Linked DNA regions of Homo sapiens: region 2 is linked to region 1. The links come from fine-mapping of genetic effects on gene expression. Tissue or cell type: whole blood. Region 1 holds a variant in brackets; the other region holds the start of a gene. All regions are shown on one strand. Distances are from middle to middle.

Region 1 (8,103 bases):
CACTGCACTCCAGCCTGGGCAACAGAGCAAGACTCCGTCTCAAAAAAAAAAGAGAGAGAGAGAAAAAAAAAAAAAAAAGAGGAAGAGGAAGCGGAAGAATAACCACCCAAACCAATCGGTCTGCAGGGCTTGGGATTCAGCTTTTAAAAATTACATACATTTGCCCAACTCCAATCTTCCAGTTGTTCCCACTCTCCACAATTTCTTGAAGATTACTGCCTGCATTTCCTCGGTCACATGTGCCAATTATTTCAGTCCTCTGGAATGTCATTCATCAGGTTTAGAAACTTTTCGACAAGGTGAATATGGTAACGAAGTCCAAGAGTTGGATGTTTTCCCGCCCTTCTGAACCTCTTCCCTTCGCATACTCTTCTCCTCTGATGACTTCTCCTTTAGTCCGTGTTTACATTTTGTGATTTCTTAGACGTGAGCTCCTAGGCAACAGAAAGAGCTGGGGTAGTTGCGTGCACAGTGAGATGCACCTTAGGAAACTGTGGGCTTCTGGGGTGGCCTTCCCCTAAGTTCCCTGTGTGACTGTTGTAGATGTTTGTAGCTCAGTCTACCTAGCAACCCCTCCTCCTTCTGGAAACAGCTCTAGGTTTCCTGGGTGGGGTTTCCTTCTCCCCCTTGGTGTCTGTGGTCCTGGTGAGGCAGACCGCCACCCATGGGCTCCAGGAATAAGCAGGCGACTCAGGTCAATCCGGACACCAACATAGCTCAGCTCTGGCTGTGGTGATTGGCTGAAAGATGGACATGTGACCTAAGAGAGTCCAGTGAAAGTCAGTTCTGAGATGTTTTCTAGAAATACTGGAAAAGAGATGTTCTTTTTCTACCATGATTGCTTTGTGGTGGGATGTAAGGTTGACTGCTGTGAGCCTCGCTGGGCCACCATATGGGAAATTACCAAGAATGAAGCATTTACCTTTCCTATAGTCCCTGAAAAAAAAAAATAAAAATAAAAATGAAAATAAAAATAAAAATGAAGCTAACACAGGCCGGGCACTGTGGCTCATGCCTGTAATCCCAGCACTTTGGGAGGCCGAGGTGGGCACATCACCCGAGGTCAGGAGTTCGAGACCAGCCTGGCCAACATGGTGAAACCCCGTCTCTACTAAAAAAATTACAAAAATTAGCCAGGCGTGCTGGCATGTGCCTGTAATCCCAGCTACTCAGGAAGCTGAGGTAGGAGAATTGCTTGAACCCTGGAGGTGGAGGTTGCAGTGAGCTGAGATGGTGCCACTGCCCTCCAGCCTGGGCGACAGAGTGAGATCCGTCTCAAAAAAAAAAAAAAAAAAGTTAAATAAAGGAAATGGATCAGGAAATAGAGACAGCCAGACGCAGTGGCTCACGCCTGTAATCTCAGCACTTTGGGAGGCCGAGGCGGGTGGATTGATTGAGACCAGGAGTTTGAGACCAGCCTGGCCAACATGGTGAAACCATACAAAATTAACTGGGCGTGGTGGTGCATGCCTTTAATCCCAGCTACTAAAGAGGCTGAAGCAGAAGAATTGCTTGAACCCGAGAGATGGAGGTTGCAGTGAGCTGAGATCGCATCACTGCACTCCAGCCTGGGCTACAGAGCGAGACTCTGTCTCAAAAAAAAAAAAAAAAAAAAAGAAGCTAACACAAAGGAAATGAATCAAGAAATAGGGAAACAGTACTGATCTCACTGTGTGAGCCTCTGGGTCCATCCATACCTAAAGCTGGTACAAGCTGTACCCTTGCTATCAGGTGAGCCTGTGAATTCTCTTTTCATAACCAATTTGATCGTGATTTTTGTCACTTGTTGGCAAGAATAACACAGTGTCTGGCCAGGTGCGATGGCTCACATCTGTAATTCTAGCACTTTGGGAGGCCAAGGGCGAGGGATCACTGGAGGTCAGGAGTTTGAGACCAGCCTGGCCAACATGGTGAAACCCCATTGCTACAAAAATACCAAAATTAGCTGGGTGTGGTGGCAGGCACCTGTAGTTCCAGCTACTCGGGAGGCTGAGGCAGGAGAATCGCTTGAACCCGGGAAGTGGAGGTTGCAGTGAGCCGAGATCATGCCACTGTGCTCTAGCCTGGATGACAGAGTGAGACTCTGTCTCAAAAATAAATAAATAAATACATAAATAAAATAAAATAAAAATAAAATAATGAATAAAATTTTTAAAAATGTAAAAAAACCCATCCAGGAATGGCCAGTTATTTCCCAACATCCATTTTTTGCCCTTCTTCACATTAAGAGAGTCCAATTTTTTCTCTTTTTTTTTGTGAGGGGACAGGGTCTCAGTGTGTTACCGAGGCTGGAGTGCAGTGGAACAATCACAGTTCACTGCAGTCTCGACCTCCTGGACTCAAGCCATCCTCCCACCTCAGCCTCTCAAGTAGCTGGGACCAGAGACACGTGCCACCACACCTGGCTAAATTTTTTTTCTTTTCTTTTTTTTTTTTGTAGAAACGGTCTCACTATGCTGCCCAGGCTGTTCTTGAACTCCTGGACTCAAGTGGTCCTCTTGTCTCAGCCTCCCAAAGGGCTGGAATGATAGGCATGAGCCACTGTGCTTGGCCAGATTCCAATTTTTATTCTAGCACGTTGCCACCTAGAACTTAGAATAAAGGTTAAATTTCCCGGTTTCCTTTGCAGTTAGGTATAGATGAAAAAGTAGTGTCACTTTATAGCTTAGTCATATGTCTAAGTTCTGGCCAATGAGATGTAAGTTGACATGAGTGGAGGCTCCCAGAAAGGAAAGGGTGCACCCTTTTCTCCCTTCCCGCTTCCTGCTGCCAGGAATGCAGATTTGATGGATGGCATTCCAGCCACTATCTTGAGTCATGTGGATTTAAGAATGGAAGCAGACAGACAGAAACAAGGTTTCTGGGGAAAGAGGACCCACCATGCCAGCCTTGGAGAACTAATCTATAGACTTCTTTTACATGAGAAGAGAAATAAACTTTTATCTCATTGAAGCCACCAATCTGTCCTGTCTCTGTTACTATATCCAAAGTTGAGTCTGATTGACAGTGCCATGTTCCTCACACCCTGGCCACATGTTGTATTATCAGTTATTTTTTCATTTAGCCTATCTGACAGGTGAAAAAGTAGTGTCACTTCATAGTTGTAAATTCATTTCTGATAAGAGCTGATCTTATTTTTGTAGATTTTGAGCCATTTGTGGGATTTTGGGTCTGTGAACCATCTTCCCTCCCTTCCCCTCCTCTTCTCTCCCCTCCCCTCTCCTCTCGTCTTTCTTTTCTCTCCCTGTCTCTCTCTCTCCCTTTCTTTCTTCCTTTTTTTTTTTTTTTTCCAGACAGGGTCTGGCTCTTTCACCCAGGCTGCAGTGCAGTGCTGCAATTATGAATCACTGCAGCCTCCACCTCTCTAGGCTTAAGCAATCCTCCCATTTCAGCCTCCCAAGTAGCTGAGACTATAGGTGTGCGCCACCATGCCCAGCTAACTTTTTTAGGGATGGTGTCTTGCCGTGTTGCCCAGGCTGGTCTCAAACGGCTGGGCTTAAGCAAGCCTCCAGCCATGGCCTCCCCAAGTGCTGGGATTACAGGCCCCATTTCTTTCTTTCTCTCTTTTTTTTTTTTTTTTTTTTTTTTGAGATGGAGTCTTGCTCTGTCGCCCAGGCTGGAGTGCAGTGGTGCGATCTCGGCTCACTGCAAGCTCCGCCTCTGGGGTTCACGCCATTCTCCTGCCTCAGCCTTCCAAGTAGCTGGGACTACAGGCGCCCACCACCTCGCCCGGCTAATTTTTTGTATTTTTAGTAGAGACGGGGTTTCACCGTGTTAGCCAGGTTGGTCTCCTGACGTTGTGATCCACCTGCCTCGGCCTCCCAAAGTGCTGGGATTACAGGCCCCATTTCTTTCTTGACTCCATTCTCAGTCAGCCCCATTCCTGTGATTCCAAGATGGCTGCCAGCAGCTCTGGACTTTCATCCCACCTCTCAGCACCCTCAGCAGGGAGAATGCCGCTTTCCTGGATGGTGCAACAAAAGTTTAGGGATTGTCACGAGAAAGAGAGGACAAGCCACAGACTGAGAGAAACATCTGCAAAAACATATCTTGATAAAGGTCTTTTATCCAAATAACACAACAATCCGGCTGGGCACAGTGGCTCTTGCCTGTAATTCCAGCACTTTGGAGGCTGAGGCAGGTGGATCGCCTGAGGTCAGGAGTTCGAGACCAGCCTGGCCAATACGGCGAAACCCAGTCTCTACCAACAATATAAAAATTAGCCAGGCGTGGTGGTGCATGCCATAATTCCAGCTACTCAGGAGGCTGAGGTAGGAGAACGGTTTGAACCCAGGAGGCAGAGGTTGCAGTGAGCCGAGATGGCGCCATTGCACTCCAACCTGGGCAACAGAGCGAGACTCCGTCTCAAAAAAAAAAAAAATTAATTAATTAAATAAAAATAAAAATAAAAAAACACGTAACTCAACAATCTGAAAATAGAGCTGGGCATGGTGGCATATGCCTGTAGTCTATTCAGGAGGCTAAGCTAAAAGAATCACTTGAGCCCAGGAGTTCAAGATTGTAATGTGCTATGATCCTGACTGTGAATAGCCACTGCACTCCAGTTTGGGCAATATAGCACGATGCTGACTCGTTTAAAAAAACACGAACGTGAACGACCTGATTAAAAAATGAGCAAGGCCAGGCGTGGTGGCTCATGCCTATAATCCCAGCACTTTGGGAGGCTGAGGCAGGTGGATCATGAGGTCAGGAGTTCAAGACCAGCCTGGCCAAGATGGTGAAGCCCCATCTCTACTAAAACTACAATAATTAGGCGGGCATGGTGGCAGGTGCCTGTAATCCCAGCTACTCAGGAGGCTAAGGCCGGAGAATCGCTTGAACCTGGGCAGCAGAGGTTGCAGTGAGCCAAGAACACACCACTGCACTCCAGCCTGGGCAACAGAGTGAGACCT[C/T]GCCTCAAAAAAAAAAAGCCAGAGGTGGTGACTCATGCCTGTAAATCCAGCACTTTGGGAGGCTGAGATGGGTGGATTGCTTGAGCCCAGGAGTTCGAGACCAGCCTAGGCAACATGGCAAAACCCTATTTCTACAAAAAATACAAAAAATTAGCTGAGTGTGAAGGCACGGCCCTGTAGTCCCAGCTACTTGGCGGGGCTAAGGTAGGAGGATTGCTTGAGCCAGGAAGGTAGAGGTTGTAGTGTACCGAAATCACACTACACTCCACCCTGGGTGATAGAGTGAGACCCTGTCTCAAAAATAAATTAAAAAAAAATTAAAGGCCTGGCACAGTGGCTCACGCCTGTAATCCCAGAACTTTGGGAGGCCGAGGCAGGTGGATCACCTGAGGTAGGGAGTTCGAGACCAGCCTGACCAACATGGACAAACGCTGTCTCTACTAAAAATACAAAATTAGCTGGGCATGATGGCACACATTTGTAATCCCGGCTACTCGGGAGGCTGAGGCAGGAGAACCGCTTGAACCCGAGAGGCAGAGGTTGCAGTGAGCCGCGATCCTGCTATTGTACTCCAGCCTGGGCAACAAGAGTGAAACTACGTCTCAAATAAAAAAAAAAAAAAAAAGAAAAAGAAAATTAAAATTAAAAAATAAATGGGCAAAAAACTCTGAACAGATACCTTACCAAAGAAGATATACACGGCCGGGCATGGTGGCTCATGCCTGTAATCCTAGCACTTTGGGAGGCCGAGGTGGGTGGATCATGAGGTCAGGAGTTCAAGACCAGCCTGGCCAAGATGGTGAAACCCCGTCTCTACTAAAACTACAAAAATTAGCTGGGTGCGGTGGCAGGTGCCTGTAATCCCAGCTACTCGGGAGGCTGAGGGAGGAGAATCACTTGAACCCGGGAGGCAGAGGTTGCAGTGAGCCAAGATTGTGCCACTGTACTCCAGCCTGGACGACAGAGCAAGACTCTGTCTCAAAAAAAAAAAAAAAAATATATATATATATATATATATACACACACATAGCAAGACTCTCTCAAAAAATATATGTATATACAGATGGCAAATAAGCACATAAAAAAGTGCTTAATGTCATATGTCATTAGGGAATTGCAAATTAAAAAAATGAGGTACCACTACTCACCTATTAGATAACAGCTAAATTTTTTTTTCTTTGTTTTGAGACAAGGTCTCATTCTGCCACCCGGGCTGGAGGACAGTGACGTGATCACTGATCACTGCAGCCTTGACTTGCTGGGTTCAAGGGATCTTCCCACCTCAGCCTTCTGAATAGCTGGGACTACAGGTGCACGCCACCCTGCCTGGCTAATTTTTAAATTTTTTGTAGAGATGGGAGTCTCCCTATGTTGCCCAGGCTGGTCTCAAACTCCTGGGCTCAAGTAATCCGCTGGCCTCAGCCTCCCAAAGTGCTGAGATTACAGGCATGAGCCACTGTGCCTGGCCTAGGATGGCTAAAATTTTTTCTTTTCTTTTCTTTTCTTTCTTTTTTTTTTTTTTTTGAGGCGGAGTCTCGCTCTGTCGCTCTGTCGCCCAGGCTGGAGTGCAATGGTGATATCTCGGCTCACTGCCACCTCTGTCTCGCGGGTTCAAACGATTCTCCTGCCTCAGCCTCCCAAGTAGCTGGGATTACAGGCAAGTGCCACCATGCCTGGCTAATTTTTGTATTTTTAGTAGAAACGGGTTTTCACCATGTTGGCCAGGATAGTCTCGATCTCCTGAACTCATGATCCTCCCACCTCAGCCTCCCAAAGTGCTGAGGTTACAGGTGTGAGCCACCATGCCTGGCCGAATGGCTAATGACTAAAATTTTTAAAAATGACAACACCAAATGCTGGTCAAGATGTTGAGCAACAGGAGCTCTCATTCATTGCTGTGGAAATGCAAAATGGCACAGCTACCTCGGAAGACAGTCTGATAGTTTCTTCTAAAACTGAAATGCTCTTCCTACATGATCCAGCAATTGCACTCCTTGGCATTTAACCCAAGTGAATCGGAAACTTACATCCACACAAACACTCGCACACAAATGTTTATAACAGATGTATTCGTAATTGCCAAACTTGGAAGCAACCAAGCTGTCCTTCAGTAAGTGAATGGATAAACTGTGGTACGTCCAGACAGTAGAATATTATTCAGTGCTGGCCGGGCGCAGTGGCTCATGCCTATAATCCCAGCACTTTGGGAGGCCGAGGCTGGCGGATCACTTGAAGCCAGTAGTTCATGACCAGCCTGGCCAACATGGCGAAAACCCATCTCTATTAGAAAAAAAAAAAAAAAAAAATAGCCGGGCATGGTAGCACACACCCGTAATCCCAGCTACTCAGGAGGCTGAGGTGGGAGAATTGCTTGAACCCAGGAGGCAGAGGTTGCCGTGAACCAAGATTGCACCACTAAACTCCAGCCTGGATGACAGAGCAAGACTCTGTCTCAAAAAAAAAAAAAAGAATATTATTTAGTGCTAAAATGAAATAAGTCGCCAAAACATAAAGAGGTGTGGAGAAACCTTGCCTTAGTCTGTTTTCTGTTACTATAACAGAATACTAGAGACTAGGTAATTTATAAAGGAGAGAGGTTTATTTAGCTCAAGATTCTGGAGGTGGGGTTGTCTAAGATCTGCAGGATATGGGATTCAGCTTTTAAAAACTGAGCTTCTGGTCGGGCTTGTAGCTTACACCTATAATCCCACTACTTCAGGAGGCTGAGACAGGAGGATCACTGAAGGCCAGGAATTTGAGACCAGCCTGGACAAGATAGGGAGACCTCTTCTCTACAAAAATAAAAATAAAATGGGCCAGGTGCAGTGGCTCACACCTGTAATCCCAGCACTTTGGGAGGCTGAGGTGAGCGGATCACAAGGTCAGGAGATGGAGAACATCTTGGCCAATATGGTGAAACCCCGTCTCCACTAAAAATACAAAAATTAGGCCGGGCATGGTGGCTCATGCCTATAATTCCAGCACTTTGGGAGCACTTTGGGAGGCTCGTTCAATTCGAGCACTTGAACGCCTGAGATCAGGAGTTCAAGACCAACACGGTAAAACCCTGTCTCTACTAAAAATACAAAAATTAGCTGGATGTGGTGGCACGCACCTGTAATCCCAGCTACTAGGGAGGCTGAAGCAGGAGAATCGCTTGAACCCGGGAGGCGGAGGTTGCAGTGAGCTC
Region 2 (8,103 bases), 60 kb after region 1:
GGTGTATGGTATGAATCATTGTGAAGACAAAGCAGGGTGATATGACTGTGTTTGTGCCTGTGTGTGTGTTTAGTGCTTTAGAAGTTCTATCCGAGAAGGAGACATTGCAGCAGAGACTTGAATGGCAATAGAGAGCAAGCCAGGAGGAAAGAAAATTCTAGGCAAAAGGAACAACAGGTGCACAGGTCCTGAGGCAGGAATATGCTTGGTGTGTTCAGGAATGTTAGTGTGACATGGGGTGAGATATAGGGAGAGATATATCACCTGAGATCAGGGAGGGGAGCAGAGACCAAATCAATTAGGGTCAGAGTAGTTTGTTTTCTTAAATGGAGTCAGGGTCTCCCTCTGTCACCCAGGTTGGAGTGCACTGGCACAATTACGGCTCACTGCAGCCTCGAACTTCCGGGCTCAAGCAATCCTCTCACCTCAGCTTTCTGAGTAGCTAGGACTAGAAGCGTGGGCCACCACACCCAACTAGGGTCTGAGTTTTATCCCAAATGCAATGGGATGCCATTCGAAGCTGTTTAGGTTGGAAGTTTTTTGTTTTGTTTTGTTTTGTTTTGTTTTTGAGATGGAGTTACGCTCTTGTTGCCCTGGCTGGAGTGCAGTGGCATGATCTTGGCTTACTGCAACCTCTGCCTCCTGGGTTCAAGAGATTCTCCTGCTTCAGCCTCCCAAGTTGCTAGGACTACAGGTGTGTGCCACCATGCCCAGCTAATTTTGTATTTTTAGTAGAGACAGGGTTTCACTATATTGGTCAGGCTGGCCTCAAAACCCTGACCTCAAGTGATCTGCCTGCTTTGCCCTCCCAAAGTGCTGGAATTACAGGCGTGAGCCACCGTACCCGGCCTAGGTTGGAAGTAACATGATTTAATACATGATTTTTCAAGGATCCCTCTGGCTACTGTATTGGGAGTGCCCTGTAGAGGATGAAAGGGAGAGAAGCAAGGAGAGTAGCTAGGAGACAGGTGCAGTTGCTGAGGTGAAAGGCCATACACGTGTGAGCATTTCATCTCTGGGTTCTCAGCATCTAACGCAGTATTTTATTTTATTATTTTTATTTTATATATATATATATTTGAAATGGAGTCTCACTCTGTCGCCCAGGCTGGAGTGCAGTGGTGCAAGCATGGCTCACTGCAGCCTTGACCTCCCCTACTCAGGCAATCCTCCCACCTCAGCCTCCTGAGTACTTGGGAATACAAGCAGGCGCCACCACACCAAGCTAATTTTAAAATTTTTTGTAGAGACTGGGTATCTGCTTTGTTGCCAAGGCTGGTCTTGAACTCCTGGGCTCAAGCAATCTCTCGGCCTTCCAAAGTGTTGGGATTACAGGCCTGAGCCACTGTGCCCTGGTGGAAATATATATATATATATTTTTTTGAGACAGAGTTTCGCTCTTGTGGCCCAGGCTGGAGTGCAGTGGCGCGATCTCGGCTCACTGCAACCTCTGCCTCCCGGGTTCAAGTGATTCTCCTGCCTCAGCCTCCCGAGTAGCCAGGATTATAGGCGCCTGCCACCATGCCCAGCTAATCTTTTGTATTTTTAGTAGAGACGGGGTTTCGCCATGTTGGGCAGGCTGGTCTGGAACTTCTGACCTCAGGTGATCTGCCCACCTTGGCCTCCCAAAGTGTTGGGATTACAGGTGTGAGCCACCGTGCCCGGCCCAGAAATGAGATATTTAATTTTTTAATTTTTACTTTTTTTTTTTTTGAGACGGAGTTTCACTCTTGTTGCCCAGGTTGGAGTGCAATGGTGCCATCTCGGCTCACCGCAACCTCTGCCCCCAGGTTCAAGTGATTCTCCTGCCTCAGCCTCCTGAGTAGCTCGGATTACAGGCATGTGCTACCATGCCCAGCTAATTATGTATTTTTAGTAGTGACGGGGTTTCTCCATATTGGTCAGGCTGGTCTTGAACTCCCGACCTCAGGTGATCTGCCTGCCTTGGCCTCCCAAAGTGCTGGGATTACATTCGTGAGTCACCGCGCCCAGCCAAAATGAGATATTTTAAATAACATAAGTAAACAGAAATATATCATGATTTTAATGATAATTCATGCTCTGAAAATAAATGAAGAAAGGAATAGGAGTAGGGAAAGCTGGGATCAGAGTGGGCAGGAAGTTAAAATAGAGCAGTTAGGGAAAGCCTCACTGAATAAGTGACATTTGGACAATGACCATGGGGAGATTAGGGAATGGGTTATTTGAATTTTCTGGGAAAATACTGTTCTAGGCAGAGGAAATAGCAAGTGCACGATCTTTAAGGCCAGAGTGTGCTAAGCACGTTGGAGAGGCCGAGTCCATTGTAGCTGAGTTACAGAAGTGAGTGGAAGAGAAGAAGGTGATGAGTTTAGAGAGGGAAGGGCAGGGCAAGAGACGGGCTGTATGGGGCTTTGCAGGTTACTGCAAGAATTTTGCAGGAGGGACAGAGACTGACTTGGTTCTTACCAGGATTCCTCTGGCTGCTGTGTTGAGTATAGACTCTAAGAGGAAAGAGTGGAAGCAGGCAGAACACTGAGGAGGCTGTTGCAGTGGTCCAGGTGGGAAATGATGGTGCTGACCGTGGAGGTGGTAAGTGGTCAGATTATTCTATTTTATTTACACTCAACACATCTAATACTGACTCAATATTATCTAACATACAGTCCACATTGAAATTGCCCCCCAAATTCTTTTTACATAAAAAAATCATCCTGAATCCAATCAAGTCTCACCTATTGCTTTTGGTTTTCACCTCTTTCATGCTGTCATATTTTAAAAGACTCCAGGCTAGATGTTGTGTAGAATGTCCCACATTCTGAATTCGTTTATTTTTTCAAGTAAGCTTTTTGTGTGTATGTGGCAAGAATACGACAGAGGTAGCAATATGCTTTCCCCACTGCATCATATTAGGAGACACATAACAACAGTCCTGACCCATTATTGGTGGTGCTAAGTTCGATCACTTGGTAAGGGGGTGCCTGCCAGATCTTTCCATTGTAAAGCAAGCTGTTCTTTATTGTAAGTCATAAATACGCTGTGGGATGATACTTCGGGACTAAATATACCCTGAATATACTGCTGCCCAACAACATTTCACCCAGTGACTTTAGCAGCTAAGGAACAGCCTCGTGGCTTCCGACCTTGTGCCTCAGTTCGCTCATCTGAAAAATGAGGATGATCATGGTCCCTACCGGATGCTTGTTTTGAGGATCCGTGCTTGGCATACCAGAAACGCTCCACAAATGTTAGGTATTACTGGACGAAGGCAAATATGAAAAAAATTAAGGGCAGGGCTAGGACTGCATTCCGGTTCTCCGGATCCCGAGGGAGCTCCCAGTCGATGCTGGGCGAAAGCGGCCGCACGAGCCCACGTCGCCACGCCCTCCGCCGCGGAAGCCAGGGTGGGGGTCGCTGGAACCCTAGGCCGGCCGCGCAAGGCCCCCTGGGACCGGTAGTGCTGGGCGTGGCCTCGGGACTACATATCCCAGTGGCCCCCGTGCGGCGACTTTAGCTGCTGCTGTCTCAGCCGCTCCACAGCGACGGCAGCGGCTGCGGCTTAGTCGGTGGCGGCCGGCGGCGGCTGCGGGCTGAGCGGCGAGTTTCCGATTTAAAGCTGAGCTGCGAGGAAAATGGCGGCGGGAGGTGAGTGGAGATAAAGGAGGAGGCGGTGGCGGGCGAGGGGGTGGAGTGCGAGGCGGAGGGAAGAGGGGCGAGTTCCCCAGGCTGCGAGAGCCAGCGGCTTCAGATCTGCCAAGGCACTGAGGGGCGCGCCGGCCGGGGGACGCGCTGAGGTAGTTTCGGGGTGTCGGGGCCGCGCCGCTTCCCCTCAGCCCGGGGGGCGGCCCGCGGCGGTAGGAGCTGAGACGAAGCTGGGTGGCAGTCCGCTTGGGGATCCGAGGGGGTCCCCGCGCGGAGGGGTCACCCGAGGAGTTTGCGGGGGGACTGCAGGGGCCCACTTTCCCCTTCTGTCCCTAAAGTTTTTTCTTCCTCTTGCCTCCCCCAGCCCTTTTGAAAGCTCCCCGCGTCGTCCTCCTGCTGCCCCGGCTCCTTAGCAGCTTCTGGGACGCACGGGAGGGAAAAGCCGCGGGGACCCCCCCCACCCCAGCCTCCCAGCCGGGTGAGATTTGGTTGCTGTGTTTCCTCCTCACTTGGGCATTTAAAAAATATTTTAACACGAATTGTCCGCGGAATTTTCATGTTGGGCTCGGGTAGCTTCTTAGTTTTCTCGGTAAAAAGGCGTTTTACTACCTCTGGTGTGAAGGCTGGGAAATGGCAAGTGGGAAGTTGGTTGATAAAATTAGGAGTTTGGCTGTCTTTATTACTACTTTTTTTTTTTTTTTGCTCTCCCCATCTCTCATTTTATGAACATCGACCCAGTTCGTCATGGTTTAAATAAACTGCTTGTCTTGTACCTGCCTTAACAAAACTAGCCATGGGTCGTTGGGAGACTTAGTTGCTTCCTAGGCAGTTTGAGGGCATCTAGGGTGGAAAAGTTAACCGAGAGAGCGAGCATCTACCTCACTGGCAGGATCTGGGATTCCCAAATGGAATGACACGGAAGCTATGAGATTCTCTCGAAGTCGAAACTTTTTTCCCCCTCCCGAATGCGAAGACTTCCTTTTTGCAATATTTGAGCAGGGCTTCAAAACCAACCTGTTTTTGTTATTAAGCCTGTACGGTAAAGAAACAGGAAGGAGAGTACCAGCTGTCTTGCTGCAGTGGTTTTAAATGGAGTTGAATGAGATGCGTGAGAGTGGTAGTAGTATTGAGTAAGATTGCTGCATCTCTTTGATTTAAATGCCTGGCCTCGGATCCACCTAACTGATCCCTGGCTGCAAAAAAGCTTCAGTATTTGTTGCAGCAGGTTGTTGAGAAGGTGATTGGAGGAATAAAAATCTTAGGTCTTCAGCGAATGCTGCACAAACGAAAATGTTAATGGAAACCTGTAAGTTTGTGAATTGTTTGTTCTTGAAAATATTTTAAATGTATGCTCATTTAGAATATGGTTCTACCGAATGATATCCAATTGGAAAGGTACAAACACATTGAAAAGTGAATCTCTCTTTCACGCCAAACCCTACAGTTTCCCCTTCTCAGAGGCAAAGACTGTTACTGGTTTTTAGAATATCCTTGGTCTTTGGAATAATTATTTTAAGATTTTCATTTGAAACCACTTCTGTTGGATACCAAAAGCAGGGAAATAAAATGAACAGAAGAAACAGAAAATGTGGGAATACTGTTTTTGCTCTCTTAAAAAAAATGTTGATAGCTATTGGAAAAAGCTCTTCAGAACTTACTGCTTATGTCACCTTATCTATTAATACCGTTAAATAACAATCTGTGGGGCTTTAGGATAAAGAACTCTGCCAGGGTTCATTGTTTGTATGTACAATGAATCCTCTGCTTGTAACATGTAAAATGATATTGAACACTATAGCTCCTGTCACTAGAGGTTGCTTCAGGTTCTGCATTTCAATGAGCAGAAATCTAAATTGCCTGTGATCCTAAATTATAGGGGCATTTTATGTATAGATGGAAATGACTTAATTGTCCAATCAGCATTTGAAATAAGAGGCATATACCAGCTTTTGGCATATAGAAGATGGGGATTGTGGACTAAGCGGGAGGCTGTAATATTTCTAGAGCAGTTATAGGAAATATTTCTGCCATAAGATATTTAATTACAAAGGCTTTGAAAATGTACAACTTAAGCATCAATAGCGAGATTTATATTTTTATATTTTAGAATGGTTGTTTTAACAGCTTGCCAACACTAACAATTTGCTAAGGAAATTCAGTGATATTAGAGCTAGGTTATTAAAGATTATATTAAATAATTTAACTGTATTTTGAAAATGATTATGCTGTGCATTTCCTTCTCTGTATAAAAATTATTTCTAAAAAGTGCCACGCACCTCCCGAGCAAATAAAATAGAATTCAGTAAGGAGTGAAGTACTGTTGTACGTGAGACCCTTTTTCTAGGCGATATGCAAATAAAAAGTAGTTTAAAAATGGTTGCTTACTAATGTCTTCTTGACTGGTCTTTTGAAATAAGCTTTCTTGCAGGGACATTACATTAAAGATAAAAGCTAAGTGTGTCTTTTTTTTTTTTTTTTTTTTTTTTTAACGAATTCAGTTCTTTCTGCCGGGCTGCAGTGGCTCAGGCCTGTAATCCCAGCACTTTGGGAAGCCAAGGCTGGTGGATCACGAGGTCAGGAGTTTGAGAACAGCCTGGCAAAGATGGTGAAACCCCTTCACTACTAAAAATACAAAAAATTAGCCGGGCGTGGTGGCGAGCACCTGTAGTTCCAGCTACTCAGGAGGTTGAGGCAGAAGAATGGCTTGAACCCGGGAGGCGGAGGTTGCAGTGAGCCGAGATTGCACCACTGCACTCCAGCCTGGGCAACAGAATGAGACTCTGTTTCAAAAAAAAAAAAAATTCTGTCTTGTGCATTAGCAGTATGATTCTGGAATAATTCATTTTAACTTGGAGTACTGTAATTGAAAAGTCTTTAAAAGAAAATTAAAAAATAAATTTTAGTTTGGACAATAGGGTAAGATTTAAAAACTCTGCTATTGTCCTATCCCAAATTGATGGTTAAAATAAATGGCTTTGGGTTTTTGGTTTTTTTTTTTTTTTTTTTTTTTTTTGCGGGCAGGGGCGTTTTTTTTTTTTCTTTTCTTTCTTTTTTTTTTTTTTTGAGAAGGAAATTTGCTCTGTTGCCCAGGCTGGAGTGCAGCGGCGCGATCTTGGCTCACTGCAACCTCTGCCTCCTGGGTTCAAGCAATTCTCCTGTGTCAGCCTCCCAAGTAGCTGGGATTACAGGTGCGCACCACCACGCCCGGCTATTTTTGTATTTTTAGTAGAGACAAAGTTTACCATGTTGGCCAGGCTGGTCTCGAACTCCCAACCTCAGGTAATCCACCTGCCTTGGCCTCCCAAAGTGCTGGGATTACAGGTGTGAGCCATCACGCCAGCCTGCATTTTTTAAAAACTATATAATTTCACACTTTGGCCAGAGGAGGTAGAGTACTTTTGAAAACTTTTAATTTGTTGCAAGTTTAGAATGCATATTAGCCGCCAGTGACTTTTGGTCTACAACAGCAAATTTGTCACAATTTAATACAGTTGTTACCCTGTAAAGCTATCTAGGATTAGAAAAAAAACAAGACTTGTTGATCATGATTGAAGAGATTACCTGTAGCAGTTTGGTTCATATCCTTGGTATAAATATTTGTTTTTTGCATTACTGAGCGGTTAAAGCTCTGAGAGCAGAAAATTAGTATTGGAAATGTATGTTAACTTTTTCTTATTTTTTTCTCATACTTCAAAAAATTGAAAAACAAGGGGACTATATTGGTTTGGATTCTCAGGAATAGCTTTGAGATTGAGTGCTGCAGTAAAATGTAGGCATTTTCTCCTTTTTTTTTTTTTTTTTTTGAGACAGAGTCTCACTCTGTTGCTCAGGCTGGAGTGCAGTGGCATGATCTCGGCTCACTGCAACCTCTGCCTCCCAGGTTCAAGCGATTCTCGTGCTTCAGCCCCTGCCCGAGTAGCTGGGACTACCGGCGCTCGCCACCATGCCCGGCTAATTTTTGTATTTTTAGTAGAGATGGGGTTTCATCGTGTTGGCCAGGCTGGTCTCGAACTCCTGACCTCAAGTGATCCTCCTGCTTTGGCCTTCCAAAGTGCTGGGGTTACAGGCGTGAGCCACCGCTCCCGGCCCATTTTCTCCCATTTTATGAGTGCTTCTTGGGGTTGGGGAGGGGTTACAAAATAAACACTTCAGAATTAAGGTGGAGGAGGGGCTTTGTGGTAATGAGGCATATTCCATGAGTTTGGTCATGTTTTTACTAGGTAAATTCATTTTGTCTATCATTTTTCTGAGAGGGTTTCTGGGAGAAGATTATTTTAGGTTAAAGATGCAATTTATCCAGAGCCTAACTTTATTTTCAGCCCCCTAACAAATTATGGAATTGAATTTAATTGCCTTTCCCTTTCCTACCTTCTGGTGGAGAGTTTTTAAATGAACAGGAAAATGGCCAGAAAATACACAGCAGGAGTAGGATGGGAGACCTGCAGTGTGTAGAAGGCCGATTTATCCACAAACTGGATAATC

What was found. PIP is the estimated chance that this variant, and not a neighbour inherited with it, causes the effect.
Region 2: it holds the start of NCOA3, and the variant in region 1 is fine-mapped to the expression of NCOA3 in whole blood (TOPMed, PIP above 0.99).

The regions. Positions count from the first base shown.
Region 1 is chr20:47,438,576-47,446,678 of GRCh38, forward strand. No RefSeq gene overlaps it. Among named protein-coding and RNA genes, the nearest start is that of LINC01754, 30 kb to the left of the region's middle. The variant C/T (reference allele first, on the strand shown) is at 4,914.
Region 2 is chr20:47,498,396-47,506,498 of GRCh38, forward strand. NCOA3 (nuclear receptor coactivator 3) reads left to right here and starts at 3,492. Exons shown (of 23, transcript NM_181659.3): 1 at 3,492-3,624. RefSeq lists a cis regulatory region at 2,408-2,480 and a silencer at 3,732-3,851.